Homo sapiens: one gene and its partners. The protein of the gene in region 5 interacts with the protein of the main gene of each other region in a pairwise test. Each region holds a gene or a part of one and is shown on either strand. Other genes may lie near its edges. The genes, in order: TMBIM6, C3orf52, SERF1A, MFF, TMX2, FDFT1 and UBE2J1.

Region 1 (3,439 bases), on a different chromosome or scaffold from region 5:
TACTAAACGCAGGAATTAGTTAAAAAAATTTTTTTTTCACTTGCTGCTTTTTTTCTAACAACTGAAGACTTCTGGCTTACCTCTTACTCAGTGGCCTGCCTTACAGTTACCCTGGACCTAACACAGTGTGTGAGCAAGTTTTCAAATCTGAAGTATACACACATGCCAAGCTCAGGAGCCATTATTGTCTCATCTTTGGGTTGTAGGCTAACTAACCTTTTCATTCATGGCCAGGATCATCATGAGTTTTCTGAAGACAGTAATGAAATCTAAGAAGAGATCAATGCAGTGCCTGAAAGGCAAGAACCAGATTAGGATCTGTACTTCAGACTTTTTTATCCACAAGCCCACAAAGATGCAGAATATAAACCCCACCCCTACCCCCACGAGCCAGCTTCTCCCACACTTTACCCCCAACTAAGGAAGTAAAACTCTGGTGTCTGAGATCCTTTAGACTCATCGAAGTCATGCAGCATAGAGAAAAGAGACTGGGCCAGGCACAGTGGCTCATGCCTGTAATCCCAACATTTTGGGAGGCTGAGGCAGGTGGACTGCTTGAGCCCAGGAGTTCGAGACCAACCTGGGTAACATAGCAAAATCCCGTCTCTACAAAAATTAGCAGGGCATTGTGGCATGTGCCTGTAATCCCAGCTACTGAGGAGGCTGAGATGGGAGGAACACCTGAGCCCAGGGAGCTTGAGTCTACAGTAAGCCATGACAGTGCCACTCTCCTACTGCAGCTTGGGTGACAGAGCAAGCCCTGTCTCAAGCGCTCTGAACTCTGCAGAGGTCCAAGTCTGAACCCTTAACTACCACTAATTAGTCATGAGACTGAGAGAATCACTACATTAAAAAAAAAGTGCCGAGCACAGTGGCTCACACCTGTAATCCCAGCACTTTGGAAGGCTGAGGCGGGCATCACCTGAGTCAGGAGTTTGAGACCAGCCTGACCAACATGGAGAAACCCCATCTCTACTAAAAATACAAAATTAGCCGGGCATGGTGGTGCATGCCTGTAATCCCAGCTACTCAGGATGTTAAGGCAGGAGAAACACCTGAAGCCGGGAGACGGAGGCTGCGGTGAGCCAAGATCACACCGTTGCACTCCAGCCTGGGCAACAAGAGCGAAACTCCGTCTCAAAAAAAAAAAAGTGAGCTGGGCATGGTGGCCCATGTCTGTAATCCCACCACTTTGGGAGGCTGAGGAAGGCAGATTGCTTGAGGCCAAGAGTTCGACACCATGTCCTCACGGGGCAACGTGGCAAAACCTCGTTCTACTAAAATTACAGAAATTAGCTGGACGTGGTGGAGAGTGCCTGTAATCCCAGCTACTAGGGAGGCTGAGGCACAAGAATCGCTTGAACCCAGGAGGCGGAGGTTGCAGTGAGCTGAGATGTTGCCACCGCACTCCAGCCTGGGTGACAAAGCAAAACTGTCTCAAAAAAAAAAAAAAAAAAAAAAAGTGGCTGGGCATGGTGGCTTAAGCCTGTAATCCCAACACTTTGGGAAACCAAGGCAAGAGGACTGCTTGAGACCAATCTGGGCATATGGTAAGACCCCATCTCTACAAAAAATAAATTAGCCTGGCATGGTCGCACGTGCCTGTTGTCCCAGCTACTCAAGAGGCTGAGGCAGGAGTACTGCTTGAGCACAGTAAATTCAGGCTGCAGCGAGCTGTGTTCATGGCACCACACTACTGCCTAGGCAACAGAGCGAGACCCTGTCTCTAAAAAAAGAGTGTATCTTCTACTCATTGTTTAAAAAATACAGAAGTATAAATAGGAAAAGGAGAAAGATCTCTTTCCCTCACTTCTGCTTGGAGGTAGCCACTATGGATATGTAAATATATAGCCACCCCCCAACACTTTTTTTTTTTTTTTTTTTGAGAAGGAGTCTCGCTCTGTCGTCCAGGCTGGAGTGCAGTGGTGCAATCTCCGCTCACTGCAAGCTCCGCCTCCCCGGTTCACACCATTCTCCTGCCTCCGCCTCCTGAGTAGCTGGGACTACAGGTGCCCGCCACCACGCCCGACTAATTTTTTGTATTTTTAGTAGAGACAGGGTTTCACCGTGTTAGCCAGGATGGTTTCGATCTCCTGACCTCGTGATCCGCCTGCCCCGACCTCCCAAAGTGCTGGGATTACAGGCGTGAGCCACCGTGCCCGGCCCCCACACTTTTTTTTTTTTTTTTTTGAGACAGGGTCTCGCTCTGTTGCCAGGCTGGAGTGCAGTGGTGCAATCTTGGCTCACTTCAACCTCCACCTCCTAGGTTCAAATGATTCTTATACCTTAGCCTCCTGAGTAGCTGGGATTATATACATGTGCCACCATGCCCAGCTAATTTTTTTATATTTTTAGTAGAGATGGGATTTCGCCATGTTGCCCAGGCTGGTCTCAAACTTCTGAGCTCAAGCGATCCAGTGGCCTCAGCCTCCCAAAGTGCTAGGATTATAGGTGTGAGCCACCACACCTGGCCTATTAGCCCAGATTTTTAAAAAATCTGAAATCTTTCAGGAATTGAGGAAGATTATGGTACACAGTTCCAAAACCGTGGGTTTCCTACCACATACACTCCCAAAGCTTGGCCACCTATGTTCAGCCAATGCCAACCTAAGTTCAGCTGCTGAACGGTATGCCTCAACCTTCATGCTTGTTAAAGACTAGTTCCCACACTCACCAGATATAATCTTGATCTCCATGTTCGGCCTTTTCAATAATGAGTTGAGTATCAAAAAGGACGAAGCCACACATGACCACCAGTCCCACATACAGGTTTGCCTAACAAATGTAAGAGATGAAGTTACTATACAGCAGAAGTTGCAGAGAAAAAAAAACCAGCCATACTTTCTGGCTCATAGTCACTTGAAAGTACATCAAATGTGAACCCTATGAACATTACCATTCACGAGAACTGCAGCCTAGGGTGAAGACCACTTTACTTCCCTAGGCACAATACTGCACTGGTCACTGGAAGAGTTTCAATCATTTTAACAATCAGCCACTGCCAGACTGGCCTTACACAAATGGTGTCTGAGCAAACCATTTTCTCTTAGCAATGCCCAACCTTGTGCAGCCTGTTTTCACTTGTGGCAGAAGGCTCCATCCTATGAAGGATAATGGGAAGGCTTAGAGAGCACTGCCCAAAGTAGTACAGAAAGAAGTGCAAAAAAAAAAAAAAAAGGAAAGAAAGAAGTGTGAGGCAAATGGCTGCTGGAAAGTTCCAGGCTAAGTCTTACCTGGAAAAGCCAAATGGATCCAAAGAAAACATTCCCCAGGGAAGACAAAAGCAACAAGCTCAGGGCTGACATCAAGATACCTATAAGACACAGCAAAAAGCTGTCTTGAGAGAAGCCAAGGCAAAGTAAAGCAATCCCATTAAAGCCATTCCTTAACTTCCCCCAGAATGAAGGTTAATCTCAACTCAATAGTCGCAAAGGAGTTA
Region 2 (3,500 bases), on a different chromosome or scaffold from region 5:
ATGCAGTGGCTAATTAGAGACCAGCTTCCAGAATAAGGCAGGTGCCATCATTAACTCCTAACCCATGCACAGGGTGTGGTAGTCACACAGGCTGGCTTAAGCAGAGTAATGGCCCCAACCCTGAGAGGAAAACACTGTGGCAGTGACACATGGCAGGGCCTGTGTTTAGAAAAGTCAAGGGAAAGGGCATAAAGTTCCAATACTGTGATATAATAACAATATGTATACTGTTTAGTCTCTGCCCCAGTTCCTGGCACAGAATTCCTAAAACCCTTGTTACTTCCTGAGTGACAGGGGCGCCGGGTACATCTTTTACTCTAACATTTGGTCTTTACTCCAGCTCCTGACACAGACCTGCTCCTAAATCTCTTGCAGTTTCCTGGGTTATAGGAGTGTCTTTATTTCTGATGAGGCAACTCTTGGCGGGCTGCTGGATGGGGGCTGATCATCAGAAAGACCAAGCCGCAGCTAGAAGCTTGGAACTTTCAGCCAGTGTGGTGGAGTGGGATGGTGCATGCGTGTAGTCCCAGCTACTCGGGAGACTGAGCAGGGAGAATCGCTTGAGGCCAGGAGCTTGATATCAGCCTAGGCAATATAGTGAAAACTGTCTGGAGAAAAAAAAAAGAAGAAGAAGAAATCTGAAGCTTTTGGCCCCACCTCCACCCCCATCCTCCAGAGGGGAGAGAGGCTGGAAAGCAAGCTAATAATCCACCATGCCTATGTGAGGAAATCTCCATAAAAATCCCTAAAAGACAGAGTCTGGAGAGCTCCCAGGTGGCTGAACACATTTACAAGGGAGAGTGGCACACCTGAAAGGACATGGATGCCCACATTCTGTCCCACGTGTCCGCCCTATGTACCTTTTTATCTGGCTTTTGATATCCTCTATTTTCTACAGTGTGCCCATAAATGTGATGCTTCCCTGAGCTCTGTGAGCCATTCTAGCAAATGACCAAACCCAAGGTGGGGGTTTTGGAGACCTCCAATTTGCAGCTGGTTGGTCAGAAGCACAAGTGACAACCTAGACTTGTAACTGAACTGGCATCTTTTTTTTTTTTTTTTTTTGGAGACTAAGTCTCGCTCTGTTGCCCAGGCTGGAGTGCAGTGGCACGGTCTCGGCTCACTGCAAGCTCTGCCTGCCGGGTTCACACCATTCGCCTGCCTCAGCCTCCCGTAACTGGCATCTTAAATGAGGGAAGTTTTGTGGGGCTGAACCCTTAAACTATGGGGTCTGCACTAACTCCAGGCAGATCATGTCAGAATTGAACTGGATTGCAAGACACCCAGCTGGTGGCAGATAATTGGTTGGTGTGGAAAACACACACACACACACACACACACACACACACGGCCAAAGAAGTGTTCTGCATTGAATGTGGGTATAGAGAAAAAAATAATTTTTCCCCCACAAATACCCACTTCCATTTACCTTTTATATCCAGAAACTTCTGAAACTTGACCTAATGGAAGAAAGGAGTTATTGACCTGACAATAAGACAGCAATACCTTTAGGTGCTAATTTTTGTTCCTGAGCATATTTGGTTGACGAATGAAGGGCAGGAATCTGTCACCTCACTATGCCTTACTTTGATCATTTGTAAATAAGATAATTCTTTTAAAATGTTTTTCAAGTTATTTTTATGTAATCTCATTTGCACCTGAGATACACAGAGAAAGTGCACTGGTTTCCATTTATCAGCGAAGAAACTGGCTCAAAGAAATCTGTGGACCCACCACAGGCATCAATGTCAGTCCCTGTTCTTTTGCCACTACCTAGTGATGAGCTCAAAATACCCGCAGAATTTCCTCATATCTGACTCTGTGCAAGATATATGGTTGTAAAATGAAAAATGAACATTCATTTACCTTTGAAATAGACAGTCTACTATGCAACAGGTGACACATGTGGATGCTGACTCATCTTATTTCTGCTCAGCAAATGCAAAAACCTCTCCATTAAAAAAGCAGCCAAGAGGAAAGTAGCAAGAAGCGTCTCACTCAGCAACTTGCCCCAGGAAGCAGGTGGAAGGAAAGGAGAAAAGGAGGTGAAGATAAGACATAAATGAAGAGACTTCAAGGACTTGATGGAAAAGGTGGTGGGGGTGAGGGATAAAAGACTACAAATTGGGCACAGTGTACACTGCTCGGGTAATGGGTGCACCAAAATCTCAGAAATCACCACCAAAGAACTTATTCATGTAACCAAATACCACCTGGTCCCCCAAAACCTACGGAAATAAAAAATAAAAATAAATAAATAAATTTAAACAATCTAAAAAAAATTTAAAGATATAAATGAAGAGAAGGAGAAAGAGAAATCTGGAGTAATCATCACAGGATACCAACTCCTGTGATAAAAGAAGCAATGAAATCTCATGCGTGGGTACCCAGAAACTGATTCTGATGTGACCTGGATGGAATCGCCTCTTCAGGAGCTTTTGTAGGAATCAAATCGAATGGAAGTTAGATAAACAGCACTCACTCCATTCAACCTAGCAATGGCAGAGAAGAATTTAATGGAGGGCAGCCTGCTCTTGCCTAGATTTTCTTATCAAAATTTCTGGGTCTGGCTGTGAACCACCTTGTCTTTGACAGGATGATCAGGATGCCCCACCCAACGGTCCTAGTCTGGCTGCAGAGCTTCCATCTTCCACAGAGGGTTCATTCTCCTGGGTTTCTCATCCCATGACTGACACCGCCATCCATCTGCCCAATCACTCAACTGGAGCTTGGAGTCATGCTCTCCTCACCACCACCCAATCAGTCATGGACTCTTATTGAGTGAGAATACCTCTTAAATCTCACGCAAATCTTCCTTATTTTCCCGACACTGCCCTAGTTCAAGTCTCCCTCATTTCTCACCTGGACTATTGTAACACCTTCTAACTGATCTCTTCCTCCTGGCTTTCTCCACCAAAACACAGAAAGGCTAAAAGGAAAAATCTAACTGTGTCAATCTGCTGATTAAAATATTTTGGTGCCTTATTGAAGAGTGGGAAAGCCTTCATGACCTGACGCCTGCCTTCCTTTTTAGCCTTATCTCTGCCAGCTGTCACCACAAAGCATGGGAAGGCCACAGTACACTACTTTGCAGATCCTTTAATGTCCCATGCTTTTTTATTTAGAACATTCCTACCTCATTTCAAAACTCATCCTGAGCATCACTTCACTTAACAGGCCTTTCATGCCTTCATCTTCACCTGAGGTAGCTCAGATGCCCCTCCTTTGCCACTGTACAACACACTAGAACATACCACACTATTATAAAACGATCTTTTTAGTCACTTCCTGTACTTGGACTGTGAGACCCCTGAAGGCACAGACAATGTGGCCCTGGCACTTGGCATGCTGTCTAGCACATCACAGACCCTCAATGAATACTATAGGTTGAATTAAATGTAGGACCTAAGGGAGTAAAAAGAACAGTGTCCTCCAGCATTTATGCAGCTGGAGGCCAGGAATCTTCCCTCTGGCTTTGCACTACAGTAAAGATATTTACT
Region 3 (4,020 bases), on a different chromosome or scaffold from region 5:
AATAGAATAAGTGAAGAGATTTGATCTTATAATTGGTTGGAATATCCCATAACACTGCACTGTTTATGTTTGCACAATAATGAAAGTTCATTGAGTACATGTTCACTGACATATATGGATCCTCAGAAATATATATCTTAAACATATATATAAGTATATATAAATGTATACTCATACGCATAACTCAGATGTATGCAAAGACTTCATATATCTAGAATGTATATTGTGTATATTCTATATAATATGTAATGGAGGTTGATAGACATAACCTTTTCTTGATGGTGTAGGTTAGAAATAACTGGTTCATTTAGGGTAGGGCAGATTTCACTTGCACTGATATGGACAAATCAGTGTTAATGACAGAATGCAATAGAGTCATCCTGCTATGTAAACAGAAGCATAGATAACAAATAATACAAAATATGATAAAAGTTTACCTCATTCATAACATCATTTATCTGACCCTTTCCCGCAATTTATCTGGCCTATCTGCCACCATTTAATTAAAAAAATTACAGTGATTATATCATGACTGCTTTCAAATCTCACTGTACAACTCTAAAAACATACACTTATTTGATAGCCTTGAATTTCAGCAGAAAAGATAATACTTATAAGAGGTATAGACTTTAAAATATATCATATTTGTGCAGAATATTTTAAGTTATAAATATGTATGCATAAGGCCTAGTTGATGTAACATTAGTATAGATGCTACAAATGCAAGTTCATTAAAGAATATTAAGATATTCTTCCCTGTAAATCTAAGGAAGCAAAACAATGGGAAATTTCTCAAAGATCTAAAGCAGGAGATGAAATAGGGACAAACTGAGTGTTTGCTCAACCGTAATTGTGAAGCAATCAGTTTAATTTTCTCACAGTTGATTTTGTTTAATTAGGAGATGACATTAGCTAACTTTGCAGTTCTACATCGTTGCAAAAAGGACAGAGGAGGTTTTGACATATTGTGCCTTTACTATTAAAGAAATATCATTCAGTGAGTTTTTTGTACACATTTCTATTTGTGTGGTTTTTTTCACTGAAAATAATGCTTTTAAATTTCAGAATACAACAGCTTAACTTATCACATAATAGAGATATACATATTGTATATCCCTTTTAAAATTAGTGCTAATGTAGCATGAGGGAAATGTAATTCAACAAGCTCGGAGCCCCGGCCGAGCTTCGGAGCCCCGGCCCAGCCCCGGCCGCGCACGCGCAGTGACGCGCCGGCCATGCCGGCGGCTGTTGTCGGGCCTCCAGCGGGCGGGGCCGTTGGCGGAGCAGAGGGGAGGCGCAGCCGGGCGGAGGGCCCACGAGGGCTCAGCCTTCCCGGTCAGCGGTGGTGACGGTATCCCAGAGTGCCAGAGAACCGTTGCTTTTCCGAGTTGCTCTTCTTCCAGGCTCCGTTGGTGGTCGGCATGGCCCGTGAGTGGGGGTGGGAAGCGGCGGCGAGCGTCCGGCGTGGGAGCCTAGCGCTGAGGCGCGGCGGGCGGGGGAGGCGGAGTCCGGCTGGAGAATCCCCCTGGGTCGCGCAGTGCGGGGATCCCCGCTTCAGTCGGCAGAGAGAGAGCTCGCGGGTGGTTCCGGTCCGGCTTTTCAGGCCGGACGGGTGCCTGCCCCTCAGGTGCGAGTTTGTGCGGTAAAGAACACACCCCGGAGATGTGGACACGGCCGCCCCAGGAGGGTCCTTGTTTGGAGGTACTTTATAGCTGATACCTCAAGTCTTAAGGCCTAATGAGGACCGGGAACTCCAGTGAGTCGCCTCCCTAGTTCTTTTGTTTGGCGCTCGCAGGTAGTAGCCGAATAAACAGGAGGCTTTAGAGCCGGTCCTAAATTTGATGTTCGTTTGTACCAGTCCTAGGTGTTAGGTCAGTCTGTTCTGCAAAATGAAAACAATGAAGCCTACCTTGCAGGGTTGTGGCTAGAATAAGGATGTAAAGGCCCACACTGCCTTTCGCAGACTTACCTTCAATCTGTTCAGTCTCCATCCACCCCTCTCCGCCTCTGCATGGGGATAAAGGTAACTCTCAAATGATGGGCTGAACTTGTGATCTCTGTATCTAGCTTTCTCTTCCACCCACTCCCCTCAAAAGCCAGAACTTATTTTGGGATACCGGCCCAAGATTCGAATATCTGTTTTAAAATATCTGGTATTTATAGCTAGTGACCACCTAGATTGGTATGATAATACTCTTAAGTCTTTAAGTGTTTAAGCCACTTCCTTATTGTCAGATCTAGGAGCACCATCAATCTGTTACTCTGCTAGTTTATCTATGAAAACACAAACTAAAGATGCATTTAAATAAGGCCTGTTTATTGGAATTATTAATAATTTTGGAGATGGGAAAAGAGCATGACTGTTTGACTTTGTAGGTGGAAATCAACGAGAACTTGCCCGCCAGAAAAACATGAAGAAAACCCAGGAAATTAGCAAGGGAAAGAGGAAAGAGGATAGCTTGACTGCCTCTCAGAGAAAGCAGAGGTACGTGGTACTAATTTAATTCTAAAGTCACTGACGTTGTGATTGAAGCAACATTTTGGGCTGGGTGTGTTGCCTCATGCCTGTAATCCCGGCAGTTTGGGAGAGTCGGGAGAACTGCTTGAAGCCAAGAGTTTGAGACCAACTTGGACAACATAGCCAGCCCCTGTATCTACAAAATATTTTTTTAAATTGGCCAGGCATGGTAGCACATGGCTGTGGTCTCGGCTACTCTGGAGGCTGAGGCGGGAGAATCGCTTGAGCCCAGGAGGTTAAGGCCGCAGTAAGCTGCGATTGCACCACTGCACTCCAGCCTGGATGGCAGAGTTAGACCCTGTCTCAAAAAAAAAAAAAAAAAAAAAAAAAGAAGGCCTCATTTTGGGGAACAGAAAGCATTTTGTTAAGCCCTTGGTAGAACAGGGCCTAATGATTTGTGCCAGGCGGACTAAAACCACGTGGGGTAGACATCCCAACATATAGATAAAAACGTAAAGCTCTGAAGCTATTATTTGTTTCACAGAGACTCATGCAGCTCCTCCACAACCATAAGAACTTTTTATAGGCTGGGCGCGGTGGCTCACGCCTGTAATCTCAGCACTTTGGAAGGCCAAGGTGGGTGGATCACCTGGGGTCAGGAGATCGAGATCAGCCTGACCAACATAGTGAAACCCTATCTCTACTAAAAATACAAAATTAGCTGGGTGCAGTGGCACATGCCTGTAATCCCAGTTACTTGGGAGGCTGAGGCAGGAGAATCGCTTGAAACCGGGAGGGGGAGGTTGCAGCGAGTGAAGATTGTGCCATTGCAATCCAGCCTGGGTACTGAGCGGGAAACTCTGTATCAAAAAAACAAAACAAAACAAAAAAAAACAACTTTATTCAGCAAAATAACATCTTCTATATGCAAAACACTGTGAGGTGCTAGAGTTACAACATTTTCAAAGTAGACAGCCTACCCAAACTACTCTGAATGACAAGGGACTCAATTATTAATATATAATGATAATAGTTCTCAAGAAGATACAAAAAAGTATATGCATAATAGCTAGCTGTGCTGATTTCTGAAGATCCATTGCATTGGAGAGAATTCATGTACATAGCCTTAATATATGACTATATGTGCCAATGTAAAACTGCTACAGAAATACTTTAGACTGCAGCTTAAGTAAAAAAAAGTACACTCATGTTTCTAAAAGAGCTAATCAAAGCTTAATTTTATTCTCAAATGATTTTGTCCATATGGAACTTGGAGGTTAAGCGAATAACTGACTGCATGTGCTTCAGTGTGGCTTGTTAGGGGTTCTCAATCCTGGCTGCACATTAGAATCACCTGGGAAACCTTGACAGCTACTCAAGCCTTGCGTTATGCTCAGTTTTGATTTTTTGTTTTTTTAAAAAATTGAATTACAATAGTTGTACATATTTTGGGGGTACATGTGATCTTTTAATACCTGTATGTGGGCTGGGTAGTCCCAGCCACTTGGGAGGCTAAGGCAGGAGAATCACTTGAACCTGGGAGGCGGAGGTTGCAGTGAGCC
Region 4 (3,500 bases), on a different chromosome or scaffold from region 5:
AAATGTCATGACTGATTATTCACTGTTCTTAGAGAGAAGCAAGATGTACTCATCGAGGAAAGCTGTAGAAACAAGTTCAGCTACAAACACAGGCATGGCTACGACATGCAACATGCCCTGCAACACACAAATTCCGCCAAGCATTTACCCTGGTAATTACGAAGTCTCAAAATTTACCTGACGTTGTCATGATGAGGATTAGAAGTGGCGGCAGCAGACCCACCACGCAACACAGGTCTAAGGCAGGTTTTTGCGGGAGAAGGCACAAGACAGAATCAGGAAACAGAGAAGTAATAAAATAAAAGCAAAAACAAGACAAATAAATGTCAAATAGGATTATATTGTATATTTCAATACAATATAATATCTCTCAACTACTTTAAAAAATCCTTGTCTCATGTGTCCTCCATTTTATCATTTTCATAAACTCAACATTACTATTGATCAAAGAAACAAAGGGAATCTATATTTACACGACAAAACAGCACCAACATATAAAATAATTTTCTTGGTGCTTTACTTTATGAAATTTAAGACAGAGGACAACTCTGCTTAAAAAGTGTAATTCCTTTCTTCCAGTTGGAAAAAAAAAATCACTAGCACCTTTAAAAGCATATCAGGACCTGGTTAGCTGCACCGGTATGACCACAGTTGCTCATCTGATATCAACAGCTCTATCTCAAAAACCGTATTCATAAATTTCAAGAAACTCCATTTCCCACACTTCCTTCCCTCCCACCTCATTAATTTTGAGTAGTGCCTGATGTCTCGTTGCAGCTGTGTCTCATTCAAACTCTCAGCTCTCCAGAGTGAAAATGCAAGCCTCCACTCTGAAGCTGAGATCAGGAGACGTGCTAGAGCACATTACAGGAAGGGCAATCCACAATTTGAGTCTGATCTTGAGACAGCCAGGAGTGACATACAGGGCTGCTGGAAATGAAGACTAAGGTGCAATGGGAAACTTGGTGGGGATTTCCACTCATTCTCAGTATATACTTTGGCGCTAGAGGACAGTTAGCTTTCTACTTTGATAAGCAGTAACCTTTCCAATACGTTTTATCTTTTAAAATCAGAAAACAAAAGCTTCTAAGTGTTCACTGGTCAATTCCCCCTAAAACAATCAGCAATATTTACTAAGCAGAGAAAGGAGACTGGAGTGTTGGATCCATATAAAGATTTGAAGAATTATTAAATCCTATTTTGGATATCTCATTCTCTAAGTAACTGATCTGGTTTTGCCTGAATTTAAGTATCAAGACAATAATTATATAATGGTAAATGTTTAATACCAAATGCACTAATTTTTTCTGTAAGTTGGCACAGCTGTGGAATTTTGACTACAATACAAATTATTTTCTGATAATTCAATTCATGTAAGAAAATTCTAATGTTTAACTTCTACATGTCTTAAAGGTACTACCAGTGCTTAAAGAAATTTCTGGAGCCTAGATGATAAGGGATTCAGAGACTTTTTGGGGGAACATGTTTGACTTTTATTTTACTGGCTAAAAAACATGGAGAAATCACATATGCTTAAGACAGGTCTTTAACTCATCTCATCCTACTAACATATTTACTCTGTGGCATTAGGAAACCTGTTATTTAACTACAATCTTAAATTGCACTAACATGAAAATGGTTAACTAGATGAAGCCATCACTGTGTGCTTCCTAAAGCTTTTTAAAATGCACACAGTATGTTCAAATGGGTCTGTCATATTCAACCTATTCCACCACAGAGATTTCCCTTTTATAACGCAGAGCCAGAAAATAATACAGTTACCTTTCACAACGTATTTCATTTTGTCTTCTCACACTGGCAATTGACACATATATTGTAAAAGTAAATTAGACAGGTATGTGGCAAAGTTAGAAACTTCATTCAAGTACCATTTTCTACGATAAGTATGATTTAATACATAAAATCTTCTCAACAGTATGTTTTGTAGAGTGGCAAAAGGGAAAGAAATCCAAGGCTACCACCAAGCTCCGCCATTAACTTGCGTACTGACATTTTTTGAGTAAATACACTCTGACGTAACAGAATATGTGTTTCTTTGCTATAAAAATGTAATCTGCTACAGAAAATAAAGTTTAATTGGGGATCAGGAATTATACACTTTTTTAAAGAGAAAAATTATAAATAACAAACGCTGTATCCACTGCAACTCTGGATTTCTAGGTCTTCCAAGCTGTATATTTATAGGGATACTTGCCAAAAATATAAATTATTCATACATTGGTTTCTTATTCTATGCACTCAAAGCTGGTACAATCTGTTAAGGAAAAACTGCATAAAAATAATCAAGCCCCTCGTAAAAATGAGAGCTAAGCATGACTCATCTATCAATATTTAAATAAGGTTCTTACACAGGAACTAAGTTTCTTTTTGAAGATGCGAATATTTTACATTGTAAAATGAGATACATAGCTCTAACAGATACAGGGAGAGACCGGCATTTTCTAACCAGTTAAGGACCAAATCATAATAGTATTTTAATTTCTGCTGCACCTGAGCAAATGACACACCTGGTGCTTTGGTAAATTTTCAGTGTATCAGTTCTCCAAATGCGTAACACTCACCTGTGTAAATAAACTTTTCTAACATGTACCTAGGATTTAACTTGGTTTTCACGTTGAGTTTGGTTTAGATCATCTACATTCTTGTAAGAAAAAAATATATGGTACACAAACCTTTTGACAGCGTCCTTTAAAATGTAAACTGAACACAGTTCTTATGTCAAGGAATTGTGAATCTGCATTACTTCATAGTGATAAAGCAAGCAGAAAGCTTTTTTCTTTTTCTGCCAAATAGTTCTAGTTTAAATTAACTACACCTAATGTGATGGCATATGACCAAAGATAAGGTATTGCATTAGCATAATAGCCAAGAGTAATAAAATAGAAAAGAAAAAATGATCTACAGAGCAAGGAACATAGAAGCACTTAAAATTTTATAAGCAGTATTATTTTATAATCATGCAAGTAGAACATTATCCAAATTTCACATTCCTATTTCTTATATCTGAAAAGTCATGCCAGATACTTCTCACAAAGGAAATAAAAACTGATTTGGCACTTAAAATTCTGATAAAATCTTGCTCAACACTGAGATCCTAAGTGAATACAACTTTAAAAAATCCTTTCAATACTGAAAGCGTCAATAAGACTGATGAGAATCTAACCCTCCAAGCTCCAAGGTAACAACTAATGCTACAGATCTAGGAGAAAAGCATTATTAATATAACTCCTTCATGAACTTTTAAAAACTTACTGAAATGAATGAGAAAAGAGAATTCCTTCCCAGAAAAGGGATTTTAGAGTTATCAATTCATCACAATGTAAAAAAGTGAAATAAAATTTCACTGAAAGTCCAAAAATATTTTTCATTATTAAAAAAATACAAAGTTTATACTAATACGATTTTTGATTTTATACATTTGACTCTGAGGCACAATTTTTTTTCCATTATGGAGGAAAAAATCCATATTTTTATAAGTT
Region 5 (3,500 bases):
CTGCACTCCAGCCTGGGTGACAGTGAGACTCTGTCTCAAAAAAAAAAAAAAAAAAAAAATATATATATATATGGCCTGAATATCAGCTTTTAGTTAAGCCAACTTCTGACCAGAAAGCTCTTTTTAAAAATCCTTTGTGGCTGGGCGCGGTGGCTCACACCTGTAATCCCAGCACTTTGGGAGGCCAAGGCGGGCGGATCATGAGGTCAGGAGTTAAGAGACAAGCCAGGCCAACATGGTGAAACCCCGTCTCTACTAAAAATACAAAATTTAGCCAGACGTGGTGGCAGGCACCTGTAGTCCCAGCTTCTCGGGAGGCTGAGGCAGGAGAATTACTTGAACCCAGGAGACGGAGGTTGCAGTGAGCCAAGATCACACCACTGAACTCCAGCCTGGGCAACAGAGTGAGACTCCATCTCAAAAAAAAAAAAAAAAAAAAGAGGGGGGGTTATTTCAGAATAAATGAATGGAGGAAAACAATGATATAGATAAAACTAAACAGATATAAAAAGTTGGGCAAAGAGGCTTTGCTGCCACCACCAGGAGCCCTGTACTATCAGCCATGGTCAACCCCGTGTTCTTTGACATCACCGTGGATGGTGAGCCCCTGGGCCGCATCTCCTTCGAGCTGTTTGCAGACAAGGTTCCAAAGACAACAGAAAACTTTCGTGCTCTGAGCACTGGACAAAAAGGATTTGGTTGTAAGAGTTCCTGCTTTCACAGAATTATTCCAGGGTTTATGTATCAGGTGGTGACTTCACACGCCATAATGGCACTGGTGGCAAGTCCATCTATGGGGAGAAATTTGATGATGAGAACTTCATCCTAAAGCATACAGGTCCTGGCACCTTGTCCATGGCAATTGCTGGACCCAACACAAAAGGTTCCCAGCTTTTCATCTACACTGCCAAGAGTGAGTGGTTGGATGGCAAGCATGTGGTCTTTGGCAAGGTGAAAGAAGGCATGAATATTGCAGAGGCCATGGAGCGCTTTGGGTCCAGGAATGGCAAGACCAGCAAGAAGATCACCATTGCTGACTGTGGATAAGTCTAGTAAGTTTGACTTGTTTTGTCTTCACCACCAGACCATTCCTTCTGTGCTCTCCTCTCAGGAGAGCACCCCTCTACCCCATTTGCTCGCAGTATCCTAGAATCTTTGTGCTCTCACTGCAGTTCCCTTTGGGTTCCGTGTTTTCCTTGTTCCCTTACATGCCTAGCTGGATTGCAGTTAAGTTTATGATTATGAAATAAAAACTAAATAACAACAACAATAAAAAGCTAGGGAAAGAAAATAAAGAATGAAAACAAATTCTGGCCTCTGCCTCTGCCTCTGCCTCTCCCTCTCCCCTCTCCCCTCTCCCCTCTCCCCTCTCCCTCTCGGTCTCCCTCTCCCTCTCTTTCCACGGTCTCCCTCTGATGCCGAGCCGAAGCTGGACTGTACTGCTGCCATCTCGGCTCACTGCAACCTCCCTGCCTGATTCTCCTGCCTCAGCCCACCGAGTGCCTGCGATTGCAGGCAAGCGCCACCACGCCTGACTGGTTTTCGTACTTTTTTGGTGGAGACGGGGTTTCGCTGTGTTGGCCGGGCTGGTCTCCAGCTCCTAACCGCGAGTGATCCGCCAGCCTTGGCCTCCCGAGGTGCCGGGATTGCAGACGGAGTCTGGTTCACTCAGTGCTCAATGGTGCCCAGGCTGGAGTGCAGTGGCGTGATCTCAGCTCGCTACAACCTCCATCTCCCAGCCGCCTGCCTTGGCCTCCCAAAGTGCCGAGATTGCAGCCTCTGCCCGGCCGCCACCCTGTCTGGGAAGTGAGGAGCGTCTCTGCCTGGCCGCCCATCGTCTGGGACGTGAAGAGCCCCTCTGCCTGGCTGCCCAGTCTGGAAAGTGAGGAGCGTCTCTGCCCGGCCGCCATCCCATCTAGGAAGTGAGGAGCGCCTCTTCCCAGCAGCCATCCCATCTGGGAAGTGAGGAGCGTCTCTGCCCGGCCGCCCATCGTCTGAGATGTGGGGAGCGCCTCTGCCCCGCCGCCCCGTCCGGGATGTGAGGAGCGCCTCTGCCCGGCCGCGACCCCGTCTGGGAGGTGAGGAGTGTCTCTGCCCAGCCGCCCCGTCTGAGAAGTGAGGAGACCCTCCGCCCAGCATCCGCCCCATCTGAGAAGTGAGGAGCCCCTCTGCCCGGCACCAACCCCGTCTGGGAAATGAGGAGCGTCTCCGCCCGGCAGCCGCCCCGTCCAGGAGGGAGGTGGGGGGGGTCAGCCCCCCGCCCGGCCAGCCGCCCCGTCCGGGAGGTGAGGGGCGCCTCTGCCCAGCCGCCCCTACTGGGAAGTGAGGAGCCCCTCTGCCTGGCCAGCCACCCCGTCCGGGAGGGAGGTGGGGGAGTCAGCCCCCCACCCGGCCTGCCGCCCCGTCCGGGAGGGAGGTGGGGGGGTCAGCCCCCCGCTCGGCCAGCCGCCCCGTCCGGGAGGGAGGTGGGGGGGTCAGCCCCCCACCCGGCCAGCCGCCCCGTCCGGGAGGGAGGTGGGGTCAGCCCCCCGCCCGGCCAGCCGCCCCGTCCGGGAGGTGAGGGGCGCCTCTGCCCGGCCGCCCCTACTGGGAAGTGAGGAGCCCCTCAGCCCGGCCAGCCGCCCCGTCCGGGAGGGAGGTGGGGGGGTCAGCCCCCCGCCCGGCCAGCCGCCCCGTCCGGGAGGGAGGTGGGGGGGTCAGCCCCTCGCCCGGCCAGCCGCCCCGTCCGGGAGGGAGGTGTGGGGGTCAGCCCCCCGCCCGGCCAGCCGCCCCGTCCGGGAGGGAGGTGGGGGGGTCAGCCCCACATCCGGGAGGGAGGTGGGGGGGGGTCAGCCCCCCGCCCGGCCATCCGCCCCGTCCAGGAGGGAGGTGGGAGGGTCAGCCCCCCGCCCGGCCAGCCGCCCGGTCCGGGAGGTGAGGGGCGCCTCTGCCCGGCCACCCCTACTAGGAAGTGAGGAGCCCCTCTGCCCAGCCACCACCCCGTCTGGGAGGTGTACCCAACAGCTCATTGAGAACGGGCCGGGATGACAATGGCGGTTTTGTGGAATAGAAAGGGGGGAAAGGTGGGGAAAAGATTGAAAAATCGGATGGTTGCCGTGTCTGTGTAGAAAGAAGTAGACACGGGAAACTTTTCATTTTGTTCTGTACTAAGATAAATTCTTCTGCCTTGGGATCCTGTTGATCGGTGACCTTACCCCCAACCCTGTGCTCTCTGAAACATGTGCTGTGTCCACTCAGGGTTAAATGGATTAAGGGCGGTGCAAGATGTGCTTTGTTAAACAGATGCTTGAAGGCAGCATGCTCGTTAAGAATCATCACCACTCCCTAATCTCAAGTACCCAGGGACACAAACACTGCGGAAGGCGGCAGGGTCCTCTGCCTAGGAAAACCAGAGACCTTTGTTCACTTGTTTATCTGCCAACCTTCCCTCCACTATTGTCCTATGACCCTGCCAAGTCCCCCTCTGCGAGAAACACCCAAGAATGATCAATAAAAGAAAA
Region 6 (3,500 bases), on a different chromosome or scaffold from region 5:
GGTCATGCCTGTAATCCCAACATTTGAGAGGCCAGAGTGGGAGGACTGTTTGATGCCAGGAGTTTGAGACTAGCCTGGGCAACATGGCAAAACCCTCTCTCTACAAAAAATGTACAAAAATGAGCCTGGTATGGTGTCATGCACTGTAGTTACAGCTACTCGGTAGGCTGAGGTGGGAGGATCACCTGAGCCCAGGAGGTTGAGGCTGCGGGGAGCCGTGATCACACCACTACACACCAGCCTGGATAACAGCAAGACCCTGTCTCAAAAAAAATTTTTTTTAATTCAATTTTATCTGATCAAAACTTCTATTCAACAACCTAAAATTAAGTTTCCTGAATAAATCTGCACAACAGAAAATGAGTTACTATCATAACCAGTGCTGGTTCTTGGCCAGAAGTTTTAACTTCAACTTTATTTTCTTTCAGATGGTGTCTTGCTCTGTCACCCACGTTGGAGTGCAGTGGCACAATCATGGCTCACTGCAACCTTCAACTCTTGGGCTCAAGCAATCCTCCCACACCTCAGCCTCCAGAGTAGCTGGGACCACAGGCACATGCCACCAATTCCCTGCTCATTTTTTAATTTTTTGAAAGACGGGGTCTCGCTATGTTGCTTAGGCTTGTGTCTAACTCCTGGGCTCAAATGATCCTCCCACCTCAGCCTCCCAAAGTGCTGAGATTACAGGTAAACCATAGTACCCGGCTAACTTCACCTTAAATGCAGAAATTGATTTCTAGCAGTCATTGTATGCTGTTAACTTAGGAAGCACAAATCAGCAGTTCCAAAGATAACTGCTGTCAAGTTTTGAGGTTTGAAAAATTAAGAGGCCCAAGACCTTGGACCTACACTAACGTAGTGACCATGTAGCAGCATCTTTTCGGAGATCCTAATTTAAGCACAGTTAAAGGTATGAAATACATCAACACTTTAGATGTCTGAAATGTCTCTGCCTGCTAAATCTGACTGGCTTTAAAATAAATAAATAAAATGTCTTTACTTCCACAGAAGTGATGAGTAAGTCTCACAAACACCATTCCTATGAAAAATAGGCAAGACTCCTAACCCTACCTTATGTTTTGATGTGTAGTTTTAATCTTCATGGTCAATTACATCCCTTTGTCTAGATAAGCACTTCTCTCCAGTACCCTACTCCTAGCCTGGCTGATATCCTACATAGCTGCTGGTTTGGAATTAACTCTGGAATAAACTGTTTATGATGAGACATTCAACCTAAACAGATGAATTGTAAAACCAGAGGGGCTGAAAATACTGGACAACTTTTCTTGTTCTGAGCTTCACTATGAGGACTGCCAGCTCTGTCTAATACATCACACACAGACACTGTTTTATGAGACTAACCTTGTCCCACTCCTGTTCAGAGGTCACATGCTTATCCAAAAACTCTGCCATCCCAATGCCCATTCTCCGGCAAATGTCGGCAATCACTGTTTGGTATTTCTCAGCCAGATTTCTAAACTCAAGGGAGATCTGAAATGGAAACCGTAAAAACACAGAAATCATGAAATATGTACAGACATGGCACCAAAGATCACAAGGCAAACAATGGCGGAATTAATCATGACTGCAATGGTTCATCTATAAGCCTAATTTAGGTCACACATTTTTTTTGTTTTTGTTTTTGTTTTTGAGATGGAGTCTCGCAATGTTGCCCAGGCTGGAGTGCAATGGCACGATCTCAGCTCACTGCAAACTCCGCCTCCCAGGTTCAAATGATTCTCCTGCCTCAGCCTCTCCAGGAGCTGGCATTACAGGCATGCACCACCACGCCCAGCTAATTTTTATATTTTTAGTAGAAGTGGGGTTTCACCATGTTGGCCAAGCTGGTCTCAAATTCCTGACCTCATGATCCACTAGCCCTGGCCTCCCAAACTGCTGGGATTACAGGCATAAGCCACTGAGCCCGGCCTCATGTTTCTTATTATTTCATAAATTTCATAAATATTAAAATAGAATGGTCTAAAAATGCTAATGTTTCTAGATTCAAAAGAAGATTCAAAGTCTCACTACACATTTCATCTTTCCAATGTATAATGAGATGCTTCAACATAAAGCTGGGTTTAAGTTTTTGGGAGAACAGCTTGTTTAGAGAAACCTCATTATGAGAAAGATTCATTTGTGCAAACATGGATCAAGCACTTCCTATGTAACAAGTATCATTCTAGGCACTGGGGATATACATCAGGGCAACAAACAGAAACTCAGACCCAGAGTTGCTTCCAAGATGTCCCAGTAGGAACAGCTCTGGTCTACAGCTCCCAGCAAGATCGATGCAGAAGATGGGTGATTTCTGCATTTCCAACTGAGGTACCTGGTTCATCTCACTGGCACTGGTTGGACAGTGGGTGCAGCCCATGGAGGGTGAGCCAAAGCAGGGCAGGACGTCACCTCATCCAGGAAGTGCAAGGGGTCAGGGGATTTCCCTTTCCTAGCCAAGGAAAGGCGTGAGTGACTGTACCTGGAGGAACAGTATACTCTGCCCAAATACTGTGCTTTTCCCAGTCTTCGCAACTGGCAGAGCAGGTGATTGCCTCCAGTGCCTGGCTCGGGGGGTCCCATGCCCATGGAACCTTGCTTGCTGCTAGCCAAGCAGTCTGAGATCAAGCTGGGATGCTGGAGCTTGGTGAGGGGAAGCGCCTCCCCGCCATTGCTGAGGCTTCAGTACGCACTTCTATGCTCACAGTGTAAACAAAGCAGCAAGGAAGCTTGAACTGGGTGGAGCCCACCGCAGCTCAGCAAGGCCTACTGCCTCTCTAGATTGCATCTCTGGGGGCAGGGCATATCTAAACAAAAGGCAGCAGACGGCTTCTGCAGATTTAAACATCCCTGCCTGACAGCTCTGAAGAGAGCAGTGGTTCTCCCAGCTCGGCATTTGAACTCCAGTAACGGACAGACTGCCTCCTCAAGTGGGTCCCTGAGCCCCATGTAGCCTGACTGGGAGGAGACACCTCCCAGTAGGGGCCGACAGACACCTCATATAGGTGGGTGTCCTTCTTGGACGAAGCTTCCAGAGGAAGGATCAGGCCGCGATATTTGCTGTTCTGCAGCCTCCACTGGTGATACCCAGGTAAACAGGGTCTAGAGTGGACCTCCAGCAACTCCAACAGACCTGCAGCTGACGGGCCTCTGTTAGAAGGAAAACTAACAAACAAAGGAATAGGATCAATATCAACAAAAAGGACACCCACACCAAAACCCATCTGTACGTCACCAAAATCAAAGACCAAAGGTAGATAAAACCACAAAGATGGGGAGAAACCACAGCAGAAAGGCTGAAAATTCCAAAAACAGAACGCCTCTTCTCCTCCAAAGGAACGTAACTCCTCACCAGCAAAGGAACAAAACTGGATGGACAATGAGTTTAACGAGTTGACAGAAGTAGGCTTCAGAAGGTTGGTAATAACAAACTTCTCCAAGCTAAAGCAGCACGTTCTGACCGATCGCAAGGAAACTTAAAACCTTGAGAAAAGGTTGGACAA
Region 7 (3,500 bases), on a different chromosome or scaffold from region 5:
AATAGACAATTTTCTCATTGTATAGATGTAAAACTTATTTTTCTTTAGATAGTTTATTGGAAAAAATAGCATCTGAGCCCTGGATTTTTTTAAAGCCAGCCTAACATTTACTTGTCTCAGGACTATAATCATTACATTAATTTTCTAATTCATAGCATGTGGATAAATGTGATGTGGAATTTTCCAGTGTTCCTTTCTTTTAAGTTTAATGATCGAGCATTTGAGTGTCTCAGTGAGAGGGAATTAAACATTTAACTATTTATTTTCATTTAAAAAATCTTTTTCTACTAGATCACAAGATTTCTGTTGTGAAGGATGTGGCTCTGCCATGAAGGATGTCCTGTTGCCTTTAAAATCTGGAAGCGATTCAAGCCAAGCTGACCAAGAAGCCAAAGAACTGGCTAGGCAAATAAGCTTTAAGGTACTATAAATTCTTAAATAAATGCTAATCTTGCAACCCTTTTGTTTACTGCTGGATTCTGCATAGAAAGGAAAGCGATGCAGTTCTATTACAATATGACATTTGCCAATGTTTTTCTTTTTTCATATTTTTATATTTTTAATTTCTGTGGTTACATAGTAGGTGTATATATGTATAGGGTACATGAAATGTTTTAATACTGGCATGGAATGTTTTTCTTATTACAAAATTCCTAACTACATTCATGAAAGCTTTATAGAATAGTGAGGGAGTGAAACTTGAACTCTGGTATACAATGCCAGGGTTCAAATCCCAGCTCTGTTGCTTATTAGTAGTATGATGTCAGACATATTAATTAACCACTTTGTGCCTTTTTATTATCTATAAATAATAATGGTACCTAAATCATAGGATTGCTGTGAGGATTGAATTAATATATGTAATACATGTGTTGCATTCAGAACTGTCCCTGGTGCTTAATAAATTCTAGCTATTATTACAGAATATATAGATAAGCAACAAGAAGAAAATGATGGCCGGGCGCGGTGGCTCACGCCTGTAATCCCAGCACTTTGGGAGGCCAAGGCGGGCGGATCACCTGAAGTCAGGAGTTCGAGACCAGCCTCAACATGGAGAAACCCCGTCTCTACTAAAAATACAAAATTAGCCAAGCATGGTGGTACATGCCTGTAATCCCAGCTACTCGGGAGGCTGAGGCAGGAGAATTGCTTGAACCTGGGAGGCAGAGGTTGCGGTGAGCCGAGATCGCGCCATTGCACTCCAGCCTGGGCAACAAGAGCGAAACTCCATCTCAAAAAAAAAAAAAAGAAAAAAGAAAAAGAAAATGACATTCATAATCTCACCGCCAAGAAATAGCTACTGTTAATATTTTGGCATCCCTCCTATATATCCCTTTTTTCTGTATATGTTTTACCCGAACATAGGATTATATAATATTTTAATACTTTGAGTATTAAATATTTAATTATTGAAGGTATTAGCTGGGCGCAGTGGCTCACGCCTGTAATCCCAGCACTTTGGGAGGCCGAGACAGGCAGATCACGAGGTCAGGAGATTGAGACCATCCAGGCTAACACGGTGAAACCCTGTCTCTACTAAAAATACAAAAAATTAGCTCGGCATGGTGGTGTGTGCCTGTAATCCCAGCTACTTGGGAGGCTGAGTCAGGAGAATCGCTTGAACCTGGAAGGTGGAGGTTGCAGTGAGCCAAGATTGTGCCTCTGCACTCCAGCCTGGGTGACAGAGTGAGACTCCATCTCAAAAAAATATAAATAAATAAATACATACATACATACAGACGTAAAGTATTAAGTATTTAATCCTTCTGGAATTTAATTAGCTTCACAAACAGAAATGTCAACCTGCATTAAGCAGCATGCTCTCTTCCTCTTCCCTCTCCACTTCTCTATGGACTGTCTGTCTTTCCAGGTCCAGTTCCCTTCTCTTTTATTGTAGTGCCTGGAGGAGGAGTTGCTCAGAACATGTTTACTTTCTTCCTTCTGAGGATTCCTATTACACTTAAAATTGCTTCTGAAAAATCTCAGGACCAAATGTGTTTTGTACATGAGAATTTTTCAGACTTAAGAAAAGATCTTACATATACCATATATTAACTAACCTGCCGTGCGATCTGGGGCAGCACCTCATAATCAAATCCATTAGGATTTCTTCAGCAAATCTGGGAATATTACATTAATGTGGGATTAATGTTTACACTAATGTGGGATAAAGACTATTCATAGGTTCACATCAGCTCATATCAGGCTTTGCCTAAAAATTACCAAAAAAACCTTGAGTTTTGAGAGCTTTTTAGCATTGTGGATTGTGAACCATGGGTGTTAGTTTTGTCCCTCATCAAGTAACGGCTTCTTGAGAACAGGTGTTGTGTATGCTTCTTCCTATGATACCTAGTACAGTGTTGGACACAAGAGTGCTCAGTGATTAACTGCCTGATAATAGATATTAAACTAGCAATTAAAATAAATCCAACAGAGAGGATTTAGCAGGTTGTAGATTGTGTATGTTTCCTGTTGTTTCCTGTTGTCACACTGCTCTTGGGTCTATCTTGTTTATAGGCAGAAGTCAATTCATCTGGAAAGACTATCTCTGAGTCAGACTTAAACCACTCTTTTTCACTAACTGATTTACAAGATGATATACCTACAACATTCCAGGGTGCTACGGCCAGTACATCGGTATGGCTCTTATCTTTTAATATATATGTATGTCTCTATCATTATCACTGTTTGCAATAGGAGGAGAAGATCCTGGATCAAATATCTGAAAAATTTGGTTCTCTTAACAACTGGATTCTAACTCATCAGTCCCGCTAATGAATTATTATGTTGAGCAAGTTGTTCATGCTTTCTGGCCTCAGTTTTCTTTTTTTGTTAAATGGGGCTGGATTAAATAATTTTTGTCTTGTCCCTCCAGAATTCTGTGATTCTCTGAAAAGTTAATTTTAATATAGTGTTAGACTGAATAAAACAAAATATCCATATGTTAGCCACTTTCTAAATAGACACTATTTTTGGCAGGATTGTTCAGCTGCATTAAGGTACTGACTTAATAAAGTCGTAGAGCCAAAAATTTACTTAGACTTGCTCTGTCCAACACAGTAGCCACCAGCCACATGCAGGTGTCTACATTTAAATTTAATCAAAATCAAGTAGAATTTAAAATTCAGTTCCTCAGTCACACCACATTTCAAGTGCTCCATAGCCACATGTGGCTAATGGGTACCATATTGGACAGTGTAGACATAAACATTACTATCATCACAAAATTCTGTTGGACAATGCTACCTCGTATATACTAAGTGTCCAATAAATAATTGTTGAATAAAAGAATGAATGCTATGAGTGTTGTTAGTGGTGCCCTGACCTGTTGTCTAAGAAATTGTTTGGCCTAGGTGATCAGAGAGAGTGATTTAAAAAATATGACTGGATTGGTGCCAAAAAATAAGGATTATGGGAAAAAAATGATTTTCCTTCCTATATATAAAAGATTAACTGTCTTTGGAAGTCTTTTTGGTAACAGATTGTTTGGTTAAGTAGTC

Evidence for each region.
Region 1: the proteins of TMX2 (region 5) and TMBIM6 interact in binary tests that used the Homo sapiens proteins (3 or more experiments, as listed by UniProt).
Region 2: the proteins of TMX2 (region 5) and C3orf52 interact in binary tests that used the Homo sapiens proteins (3 or more experiments, as listed by UniProt).
Region 3: the proteins of TMX2 (region 5) and SERF1A interact in binary tests that used the Homo sapiens proteins (3 or more experiments, as listed by UniProt).
Region 4: the proteins of TMX2 (region 5) and MFF interact in binary tests that used the Homo sapiens proteins (3 or more experiments, as listed by UniProt).
Region 6: the proteins of TMX2 (region 5) and FDFT1 interact in binary tests that used the Homo sapiens proteins (3 or more experiments, as listed by UniProt).
Region 7: the proteins of TMX2 (region 5) and UBE2J1 interact in binary tests that used the Homo sapiens proteins (3 or more experiments, as listed by UniProt).

What each region holds. Positions count from the first base shown.
Region 1 is NC_000012.12:49,758,557-49,761,995, reverse strand, and holds part of TMBIM6 (bax inhibitor 1), read right to left. Parts: intron 3,314-3,439; coding exon 3,234-3,313; intron 2,776-3,233; coding exon 2,675-2,775; intron 293-2,674; coding exon 217-292; intron 1-216. UniProt on the Homo sapiens protein: Endoplasmic reticulum (ER)-resident protein that confers cellular protection as an anti-apoptotic protein by limiting multiple stress-inducing pathways surrounding the endoplasmic reticulum and mitochondria.
Region 2 is NC_000003.12:112,103,389-112,106,888, reverse strand, and holds part of C3orf52 (TPA-induced transmembrane protein), read right to left. Parts: intron 1-3,500. UniProt on the Homo sapiens protein: Has a role in LIPH-mediated synthesis of 2-acyl lysophosphatidic acid (LPA). LPA is a bioactive lipid mediator involved in different biological processes, and necessary to promote hair formation and growth.
Region 3 is NC_000005.10:70,899,449-70,903,468, forward strand, and holds the start of SERF1A (small EDRK-rich factor 1), read left to right. Parts: upstream 1-1,220; 5' UTR 1,221-1,421; coding exon 1,422-1,428; intron 1,429-2,376; coding exon 2,377-2,485; intron 2,486-4,020. UniProt on the Homo sapiens protein: Positive regulator of amyloid protein aggregation and proteotoxicity. Induces conformational changes in amyloid proteins, such as APP, HTT, and SNCA, driving them into compact formations preceding the formation of aggregates.
Region 4 is NC_000002.12:227,349,251-227,352,750, reverse strand, and holds part of MFF (mitochondrial fission factor), read right to left. Parts: intron 238-3,500; coding exon 178-237; intron 1-177. UniProt on the Homo sapiens protein: Plays a role in mitochondrial and peroxisomal fission. Promotes the recruitment and association of the fission mediator dynamin-related protein 1 (DNM1L) to the mitochondrial surface.
Region 5 is NC_000011.10:57,715,593-57,719,092, reverse strand, and holds part of TMX2 (thioredoxin-related transmembrane protein 2 isoform 1 precursor), read right to left. Parts: intron 1,245-3,500; exon of another isoform or gene 527-1,244; intron 1-526.
Region 6 is NC_000008.11:11,819,741-11,823,240, reverse strand, and holds part of FDFT1 (squalene synthase), read right to left. Parts: intron 1,492-3,500; coding exon 1,363-1,491; intron 1-1,362. UniProt on the Homo sapiens protein: Catalyzes the condensation of 2 farnesyl pyrophosphate (FPP) moieties to form squalene. Proceeds in two distinct steps.
Region 7 is NC_000006.12:89,332,223-89,335,722, reverse strand, and holds part of UBE2J1 (ubiquitin-conjugating enzyme E2 J1), read left to right. Parts: intron 1-291; coding exon 292-421; intron 422-2,517; coding exon 2,518-2,637; intron 2,638-3,500. UniProt on the Homo sapiens protein: Catalyzes the covalent attachment of ubiquitin to other proteins. Functions in the selective degradation of misfolded membrane proteins from the endoplasmic reticulum (ERAD) and is essential for cells to recover from ER stress.